Linked DNA regions of Homo sapiens: region 1 is linked to region 2. The links come from fine-mapping of genetic effects on gene expression. A gene starts in region 2. The other region holds a variant in brackets. All regions are shown on one strand. Distances are from middle to middle.

Region 1 (5,000 bases), 80 kb after region 2:
TTTTAAAGTTGGTACTACATAGCAGGGAACTACAAGAGCAAGATATAATAACAACAACATAGTTAAGTGAAAGATCCAGTTTGTTGTTAAAACCAGAGTTTTAAAAAGATGGGAAGTCATATAAAATTTGAACTGTGGGGTCTAAAGAATTGGTAAAGATCTGAATTCTGCATAACAAGAGTATGAACATTTTGAGGAATCTTTTAAATAAGTGTTTTAAAAGATCTAAGTAAAGGTTCATTGGCAGCATTATTAGTGGAGTTACGATGTCTTTACCTTTCTATGAAATTAATAAAATTTTCTAACTTTCTAATTTGTAATATAATCCCAGAGTCTTTTATTTAATAAAACACTTTTAAAAACAAACAAAAAGGAATGGGCAGATAAGTACTTGTTCTTGCCTCTGTCCTTCTCCCAGGAGATTTGGCTTGAGGAAATTGAGGAAGCCTTGGGGTTTCTGTGGAACTACATTGAGGAATACTTCAGAAAAAATTCTTGGATTTCAAAATGGGGGAGGTTGTCTAAGAATGAGGAGGGGATCTCTCTTTGCTAGACAGCTGTTTATCAAAAGCTGAAGAGATGTCTGCATTTTTGTGTGTATGACAGACATCATTTAAATATGTTGTTACATAGCTGCTAAGTGTATATCACAGACACTTGGTAAACTTTTTAAGAAAAGATACCCAGGATTGGTCCAGTAGTGTATATGTTTAAAAAGCTACCCAGGTTTAGGAACTACTGGTAGAGAATATTAATCAGTCCTATTTGATGTTGTGATTCTTGCTGATCAGTCTTATTAAAAGTTTTTCTTTCTTAAGGAAAACAATATTATGATTTTTAAATATGCTTGTGTTTACAGAGATGTAGTTCTTAATAAAGCAGTAGCAAAACTGCACTACTCTTGCAGAAATAATCTGAGTCCCATCCAGAAATTGAAAAAGTCAACTGTAGGCCAGGCGCTGTGGCTCAATGCCTGTAATCCCAGCAGTTTGGGAGGCTGAGGCAGGTGGATCACCTAAGGTCAGGAGTTCAAGACCAGCCTGACCAACATGGAGAAACCCCATCTCTACTAAAAAAAAAAAAAAAAGCTGTGCATGGTGGTGCATCCCTGTAATCCCAGCTCCTCGGGAGGCTGAGGCAGGAGAATCGCTTAAACCAGGGAGCCAGAGATTGCAGTGACCAAGATCACATCATTGCACTCCAGCCTGGGCAACAAGAGCGAAACTCCATCTCAAAAAAAAAACAAAATCAACTGTAGCCAGGTGTGGTGGCTCATGCTGGTAATCCCAGCATTTTGGGAGGCCGAGGTGGGTGGATCACTTGAGGTCAGGAGTTTGAGACCAGCCTGGCCAACATGGTGAAACCCTGTCTCTACTAAAAATACAAAAGATTAGCCAGGCGTGGCAGCTAGCGCCTGTACTCCCAGCTACTTGGGAGGCTGAGACAGGAGAATTGCTTGAACCCAGGAGGCAGAGGTTGCAGTGAGCCAAGATCATGCCATTGCATTCCAGCCTGGGTGACAGAGTGAGACTCTGTCTCAAAAAAAAAAAAAAAAGTCAACTGTACAAAGTGATGTAATTTTTTTTTATGTTTAATCAGATTATAAAGACTTTGGAACACTTGCCCATTCCTACTAAAAATATGTTGGAGGAAAGCAAAGTACTTCCAATTATTCAACGCTGGTCTCAGACTAAGACTGCTGTCCCTCCGTTGAGTGAAGGAGATGGGTATTCTAGTGAGAATACATCGCGTGCTCATACACCACTCAACACACCTGATCCTTCCACCAAGCTGAGCACAGAAGCTGACACAGACACTCCCAAGAAACTAATGTTTCGCAGACTGAAAATTATAAGTGAAAATAGCATGGACAGTGCAATCTCTGATGCAACCAGTGAGCTAGAAGGCAAGGATGGCAAAGAGGATCTTGATCAATTAGAAAATGTCCCTGTAGAGGAAGAGGAAGAATTGCAGTCACAACAGCTACTCCCACAACAGCTGCCTGAATGCAAAGTTGATAGTGAAACCAACATAGAAGCTAGTAAGCTACCTACATCTGAACCAGAAGCTGACGCTGAAATAGAGCCCAAAGAGAGCAACGGCACAAAACTAGAAGAACCTATTAATGAAGAAACACCATCCCAAGATGAAGAGGAGGGTGTGTCTGATGTGGAGAGTGAAAGGAGCCAAGAACAGCCAGATAAAACAGTGGATATAAGTGATTTGGCCACCAAACTCCTGGACAGTTGGAAAGACCTAAAGGTAAGGAAGCATCTTTTGTTCATTTCAACTTGAATTACTCAGGTTTAGAGTTCTACAAACCTAAGCAAAATTAACTACTTTTTTTAGCCATGCATATTTCTGAAAAATGGAATACTGTCTCTCTTACTGTTTTATTTATAAGTGTCTCAAACATCCTCTAAACCGTGGCAAGAGTCATATTAGCCAAACTAATATACAAATGTCTTCTTTTCTGTCACTTAGAAAAGTACATCACAATAGTGAGTTCAGTCATTTAAGTGCTCTTCACATTAAAAACAAAAATCCTTTGAGGAGCAAACTTAGGATTCTATTTGTAATGAGAAAAAATTAGTGTTTAAATTTATTGGAAATCAGTTGTATTAATGGAAAATTAAAAATAATTGGAAAACTAAGATAATTTAGCAGCTTACTAAAAATGATTGAATGTAAATTTTTATTTTAGAAAAAC[A/T]ACTTTATGGAACTAGTTCGTATTCACTTCTATTATTGTTTCTGAAATGGGCCTGCTTTTAAATGCCTATTTCTTTGGACAAAAGAGGAAAAATAGATCTGGAACTCTTATGCCTATTACATACATAATCTCTTGTTGAAGAATGTAGCAAGATGTGCAGGGTTTGCTTTGCAGAAAACCCAGACTGAGTCTTGGATAAACACAAGAATGAATAACAGGATAAACCTAGGAGAGGTGTGGTACATTTCATTTGTAAGTGATCTGGACTTGGGATCCACGTCTTGAGGACCCTGTGGGAACAGGTTACTTAACTAGCTTCTATTTTTCTGTTCCTCCTTTCTTCTGCCGGAGATGAAGCAACCAAATAAACCAGCAATCCTGACTCTTTGCAGCAAGATGAACACCTGAATCCTCCCTGCCCCTAATTATGATGACAAAGCTCACTCCATTAGATCCTGTGATTTGACCCAATGAAACTGGCCTTAAACACTGAGCAAAATGAGTAGTTGGTGGTTGTGTACTATGCTTCCTCATTTGCTGTGTTGAGACCCTTCTTTAAGTATGTTGTGGTTTCAGCTTTTGTTTACCCATTTGAGCTCTTACTCATGTTACTTTCATCACTTACAATTCAGTATAAAGTCAGCCTTATTATGTCTTAGGAAATCAGGCCTTTTTCTAAATATGAAAGGAAGAGTTCGTAGTAAATTTACTTATGAAGTCAGTATGTGAACTGCAGGAATCAGAATTGCAGTTAATTGAAAGAAGTGCTGGGATAGTCACTTGATGGATTTTTATTTAAGGCCTGCTTTGTGACAGCACAGGAGTCCCTAAAAGGAGTCCCTCTTGTGTTTGGAGGCTGCTAGTGGAGCCTGTAAAGAAGCTCAGTTAAGAAGGTGGAGATGAAGACAAGTACACAAATGGACACAGAAAAGGCCTTTATAGCTGTACTTTTATGGAAGGAAGAATAAGTAGGGTTGTAGACCAGTAGTTTACTTTTGCCGGAGAAGTCTCTGGTTGATGTTATTTTTTAAAACTGCTAAGAAGTAATCATTGTAAAGCTATCTTAAAATCTGGAAAAAGTAAATATTCTTGTTTCTTCGTATGATAGTGGGTTTCTGTAATTGTGATGGTATGAATTACTCTCTAGGATATACTTAACCCAATTAGATGTAACCATGGTAATTTAAACTCACACTCTGGACACACATTTGAGTCCTACAAAATTATTTCTTCCCCTTCTTCTTATCTTCCCCACTCCTATCTGAAACATCAAAGCAATTTTATATGTAGCTTGATGATCCTCTTGATTTGAGGTTTAAAACTTTATTTGTACTTAAAATATATCCTTCTTATCCTTCATACTTTGGATTTTTCCTGATTCTTAGTGTCAAGGGAGCCGTTAAGTAAAATTCTCCTCTCTTCTTCAAACTTTAGTTTGCTCTGGAATCATTACCCATCTAGAATTGTATTACTGAGAAATGTTTTTACTTGACTGTGAACTGTGATGTTTTGTTATACATTGGTGCTGGGGTTCTTAATTCATCCATCATTCTAATTAACATTTACTATGGCTCTGTTTTCAAAACTCTGATTATGGTGGTTCTTAAAAAAACCAGACAAACATAGATAGCATTTAACCAGAAGTCTGAAATCAGGAATCCATAATTTGAACATGTTTTAGAGAAACACATTGACATGATGTGATTACTGTATATCCATACGATCCCGGCATTGAAAGAGTTAACTACTTCTGTCTGACTTCCACCTATGTGTTCGAGTAGACATTGGCTGAAAAGAAAATGTCTTATTCAACCAACCTTTATTAGGCACCTATTGTCAAACACTGTGTTAGTTGCTGATCTTTAATTCCAAGATCGTACTAAAAAGCATTGGTCTAAGATTGTGGTTATGTGGTTATGGCCATTTCAAGTCTCCCCAGCCAACCGGGGGCCACCATAACATTGGTGGACATGTGTTCCGCTTGGCTTTTCTACACACTGGATGGAGTGAAGAACAGAAAGGGATTGCTTCAGATTCCTTAATCTTGGTTTTGCTGTGATGGCAGACTATAGGAATCATCAGTAAATGAAAGAGGGTGGGAGGGAAGGGAATGAAGCTTCATGAATTACTCTTTGTCCTCCCAGATCTGATGATGATCCCCCTTGTAACTTGAACCATTTCCATCTAGCTTCTCAGGGCAGCAAGGAGCTTGTTAACATCACCAGCTGACCATGTGTCTCCTTTTCTCAACTCCATTTCCAACTTCGTGCTGAAGAAAAACGAGAACCTA
Region 2 (5,524 bases):
TCCAAGCATGCATTCTCTTTGACTTAAAAATATGAGTCCAAAGAACTCTGAGTGCAGTTATAGATGAAGGCACTGCCTGTAAAAACCCAGTTCATTTGTTTCTGTTTGGGGCTTAGAATTCTCACTGATTCCCATGGCTTGACAAGCTTATTGCACTGGGTTCTGACCAAACCAATGCTATCATGAGACCAGGCATTCCAGTGCCCAGCTGTACCTCCTGCAAGAGAATTGCTTACTTTCTTATTAAGGAAATAGGAAACCTGCACCTGACTGCTTTTTTCTCATTCACCTCAGCTTAGGTCCTTACCACCTCACATTGTTTCAACCACCTCCACCTAAAATTGTCCTTTCCTGCCTGTCCAAGGTCAAGTGACTCCCAATTGCCTATGTGGCATCTAAGGCACAGGGCCTCAATCTATTCTTTCAAAGCCCAAAAGATAACACTTACTGGGCACTTACTCAATGAAAGGCACTGTGCAAGCATGTTCACAACATTCTCTGCACAGTGGCTAATACCCCATTTACAGGTGAGGCACGGGAAGCATAAGAAGCAAGCATCCCAATGTCACAGGGCTAGAAAGTGCCTGGTACACAATGCCAGGTAGAGCTACCTCTTAAACTCTGCACTATCATGGCTGAAGAATGCTGACGTTTACTGAAAGTTTAAGCCTTTAACAAATAGCTCATTTAATCCTCACAATAATGAGAAGACCTGTCGGCAGCAATATTCTCATTTTATAATGAGAAAAACCACAGGGAAATTAGTAATAATCACGGTGTGTAAAAAAATGGCCTTGGGAGATTCGAACCTAGGGAGTCAGATGGACCCTGGACCTCCATGCTAACCCTAAAGGTACCAGGAAAAAAAAAAACAAAAGCCAAAATAATCCCTAAGTGAAAAACAATGATTATAAAACACTAATAGACACTGTAGCCTACATACATATAAAGGCTATTTTAAAAAGTTAACCACTGAAGGATGTTTATTCTTTCGTATCATATTTCAGTTTTTTTTTGTTGTTGTTGTTTTATTTTTTTGAGACGGAGTCTCGCTATATCGCCCAGGCTGGAGTGCAATGGTGCGATCTGGGCTCACTACAACCTCCGCCTCCTGGGTTCAAGCGATTCTCCTGCCTCAGCCTCCCGAGTAGCTGGGATTACAGGCGCACCACCACGCCCAGCTAATTTATTTTTTATTTTCATTCATTTATTTATTTTTTTGAGATGGAGTCTTGCTCTGTCGCCAGGCTGGAGTGCAGTGGCACAATCTGGGCTTACTGCAACCTCCGCCTCCTGGGTTCAAGCGATTCTCCTGCTTCAGCCTCCCGCGTACCTGGAATTACAGCCGTGCGCCACCACGCCCGGCTAAATTTTGTATTTTTAGTAGAGATGGGGTTTCGCCATGTTGGCCAGTGTGGTCTGGAACTCTTGACCTCAGTTACTCCGCCCGCCTCGGCCTCCTAAAGTGCTGGGATTACAGGCGTGAACCACCGCGCCCGGCCCACTTTCAGTTTTTAACCACTGTTTCTCAATTGGAAGACACATCCTTTCCTTTCCGTTACCAATTGCTGGTAAAATCCGATTCAAAATTCTAGTGGAAAAACAACAGCAACAACAACACAAAAAACGCTAACCCTATGAACCCCCAATGTCAAAATGATCTATCGCCAAAAACTCTTCAGCGTCTAGAAAGTTTAGCTATTGGATTTACGCGTTCCTATCTCTCCTTCCAAAAATAACAACTCGTAGCTCTTTCAAGTTATTCTACTTAGTCTCATCTTATCATTTCTGTAGGAAAGTGATTAATACCCTTTTTTTCATGACATTGCCTCTAAGGCCCCAAGAACCACACAGGAGAGGGGAGCTGCCGCCTTGGAGACTTCGGGTGGGGGCAGAGCGCCGCGCCGAGGTGGAGGTAGGAGCCCCGAGGGCACAGCGGGAAGGAAGGCGGAGGAGGCTGCCGGGAGCTCGGCCTCCGAGCAATCCCCCGCCTCGCTGGGCTTCCATGCTTGCTAAAGGGTCGAGATGAACGGGCAAGGGAGAGAGAGGGCGAGGAAAAATAAAAAAGAGAGGGGCGAGTGGGACGAGGGGCCCGGGAGCAGCCGCGGCCGCGTTACCTCAGAGCCCAGAGGCCTGGGGGAGGGGCCCTCGGCGCTGCCGCGGACTCCGGGGCTCCCGGCGGGCAGGTCCTGCAGGGCCGCGGAGCGAGAAGGCTGATGTCTCGGGTGTCTCGGGGAGTTCTCCCGACGTCGCCTGCTGTTTGTCAGTCGCCAGCTGTGACACGGTAGCGGGCCGGGTCACGCTGCCCCCGGCCGCCAGGCGGGTTGCGGGAGGGGTCGCGGTGCCGCCTCTCCAGGTCCGGTCTGGCCCACATCACTGGGGCCGGGGGTTTATTGTTCCGGAGAGCCACAGGCACGGTCGGCCTGGACCCGCCGGGCAGTGTTCCGCTCTGCCCGTCCCGGCCTGGGGTCAAGCCAACAGCTGCAAGGCACGCCGACTGGCGGCAGATCGGTGGCCCGTGTGTGTCTCTTTAAGGGGCCGGGCCTGCGAAGCTGAGGGGCGGGTGGGGTGTGCGTCGCTCCCGGTGTGAGGGTGAGAGGGAGAGAGCGGCTGGCGGGCGTCCGAGGGAGGGAGGGAGCGACGAGCGAGGTAGCGACGCGGGCCGCCCCTGCCGCCGCCGCCGCCGCCGCCGCCGCCGCCGCGGTCGGACCTGCGGCCTCCTCCCCTCCCCTCCCCCGCGTCGCCCTGCTGCGGGGAGGGGGCTCGCGTCGCCGTCTCCAGCCGCTCCCGATGAAGCAGCTGCAGCCGCAGCCGCCTCCGAAGATGGGGGATTTCTACGACCCGGAGCACCCGACCCCTGAGTAAGTATCAGCTCCGCGGCCCCCCGCTGCTGTCGGCCGCCTTATCCCCAGCCGAGGGCGGCGCGTCCTGACGGGTGGCGGCGCGGGCCGGCGCGAGGAGTAACAGGCCCACGGTGGCCTCGCGCGGTCGGTGTCGGGAGCAGGCCCGCGCCGCCACTTCGAGCCGCTTGGCCGGGGCCGCAGCAGGCCCGCGGTTGGGCCCGGCGTTGGCGCCGCTGCTCGTGTCGCGGCGGCGGTTGGGCCGGGCCGGTGGGGGAGGGGCGGCCACGGTCCCTACGGTTACCGCCGTGTCCGCACCGACCCGGCCATCCCGGGGCTCGGCGGTCCTCTCGGGCTCCTCGTGGCTCGTCCGGGCCCCGCTGCTAGCCAAAGGGCAGAGTCGGAGGAGCTGCCGGTGCCGGGCCCGGCAAGAGGGCGCCGGTGAGGGTAGGCCGCGAATCCCCGGGCTCGGGTGGAAGCTCGACCCGTCGCCCGACCTCCCCGCGACGGCGGCGCCTCGGACCGGAAGGGCCTAGCGCGGGTTGCCTGGCCCCCGGGCCGTGGAGGGGCCCGCGCTGCACTCCTGAGTTTGATTTTTTCCTCCTGGGAACTCGATCCTGGCCTTGCAGTGCTTCCGGATTCACATTGTGCACCTTTGGCACTTGGGTTTTGTAATGGCGAGGTTTGTGTGGTCCCGTTGTTGAGGTGACACCGGGTTTGTTTTTCCGCTTGAAAATGAAAGCCTCCTGAGGGACATACATTTTCTTGCAGGTTGTGAGATTTTCACACTTTCGGACACAATTTTCTTGGTAACAGGAATCTCTTACCCTAAACGGATGACTTTCTATTTCTTGTGAAGACTTGGTTAAAAACCAAGAATCGTTTGAGGATTCTCTAAAGAAGACAATGTTGTGGAAAACCGACACACAGTTTTGCCCAATAGTAATTTTTCAGTCTAGGACACCTTTACATTTCTCTTGAGGTCTGAATCTGCTGCTGTATCTGCTATCTCAGAAAGCCTGGAGTCACTTCTTTCCCTGAACCCTCACGAGACCATTGTTTTGAAAAGCCGTTCTTAAACACCGTTTGCTGGTGTTAGACCTAGGAATATACTATTGATTTAAAACTTATCGGTTGATAGGGGTTTCACATGAAACTGTCAAACTTTTATGACCAGGATGATTCCAAGAGCTTTGCTGTTTTGACACATTTTACCTTAGGTTTGCTCTGGCTCGTTTTTGAATCCCTTGCCACATCTTCTCACATTGGTCCAGAAATGTCTGGATCTTAATTGATAGTTTTGATTGCAACACAAACGGATTCTGTTGAGGTGTTGGTCATTTCTGCACAACAAGATAAATCATTATTTTGCTTTTCTAAAAACCCAACTCTTACTTGCAATAGTAAGTTAACATGGCTTTTTCCTTTCATGGGTTCTTGGCCATTGGTTAACATTACCTTAATTAGATTGGTCTTTTTGTTTTGCTACTGGCAGGGTCAGTTAGGTAAGATTGTTTTGATTTACTGCACCATCAGTCCAATTACAAAGCTCATGTTATAGGTTTTTAGTTTGAAAAACCTCAAAAAAAATTTTATATCACGATTCAATAAATGCTTATATAGCACTTGCTCTGTACAAAGTAACATGCTAACCCCTGAATAGGCTAAGTGCCTGCTTTCACTTCCTTTTACCAGGTTGTTTGGTGAAGTCCGGAAGCTTTAAGGATCACATCCTTACACTTCTTGGGGAAAAACAATTTTTCATAATATGTGGGAAAATGGACTCAGAAGTGCATCTTTGGTAGACCTGAGTGGGGAAGGAATCAAGAATGTTTTATGGTTTTACATGTTTTGGAGTTTTTATTTTTATTGCTTTAATGTAGTAGAAATCCACTGCTTTGGATTTCTAACAGTGATTATATATTTTTAAATTCTCGTGTATTTTTTCCTTTTTTTTTTTTTTAGAGGCAGGGTCCCACTCTGTCACCCAGGCTGGAGTGCAGTGGTGTCATCATGGCTCATTGCATCCTTGAACCTCTGGGCTTAAGCAGTCCTCCTGCCTCAGCCTCCTGGGTTGGGACTATAGGCATGTGTCACCACACCCAGCTAATTAAAAAAAAATAAATTACGTTACTGGTTTTGAATCCCTGGCCTCAAGTGAGCCTCCTGCCTTGGCCTCCCAAAGTGCTGGGATTGCAGGCATGAGCCATTGTGCCAGGCCTCTTCTTGTGTATTAACCTGTATGGAGTAAAGAATTGTAACATGTTTTTTGTTGTTGTTGTTTTGTTTTTCCTTTTTTTCATAATACTATAAAGACTGGAGGGGATCATGGTAGGTATCCTGAGCAATATCACCTGTTTGGCATATGAAGAAAATGAAGGCTAGAGAAGTGAAGTGACAGCAAACTCTTGAGATAGTAAGCTAGTTAGTGTTTATAATGCTAGAGAGAGGAGAGAGAAAGGCAGTATAGGGTTTAAAAAACCTGGATTTCAGAGTCAGACCTGAATCTGAACACTATTTTAACCTTGGACGATGACTTCATCTCTCTGAACTTGGGTTTTCTCATCTTTTATATAGGTATTATAATGGTTAACAACTTACTGGGGCTTTTTGGGAGGATTGAATGAGATAATGCATGAAGAGCACTTGGCGCAGAATGTGGCACGTGTAAGTGCTTCTAGTTG

The links. PIP is the estimated chance that this variant, and not a neighbour inherited with it, causes the effect.
Region 1: its variant is the best candidate, but not a certain one, in a credible set for the expression of SETD2 in whole blood (GTEx, PIP 0.85).

Annotation. Positions count from the first base shown.
Region 1 is chr3:47,080,982-47,085,981 of GRCh38, reverse strand. It overlaps SETD2 (SET domain containing 2, histone lysine methyltransferase), which reads left to right. Exons shown (of 21, transcript NM_014159.7): 12 at 1,600-2,262. Among named protein-coding and RNA genes, the nearest start is that of SETD2, 81 kb to the left of the region's middle. RefSeq lists enhancers at 1,705-1,844, 1,729-2,230. The variant A/T (reference allele first, on the strand shown) is at 2,711.
Region 2 is chr3:47,161,191-47,166,714 of GRCh38, reverse strand. SETD2 (SET domain containing 2, histone lysine methyltransferase) reads left to right here and starts at 2,602. Exons shown (of 21, transcript NM_014159.7): 1 at 2,602-2,861. The coding sequence starts at 2,791. It overlaps KIF9-AS1 (KIF9 antisense RNA 1), which reads right to left and starts at 2,345. Exons shown (of 7, transcript NR_033373.1): 1 at 2,118-2,345. RefSeq lists silencers at 2,100-2,149, 2,200-2,949, 3,000-3,309.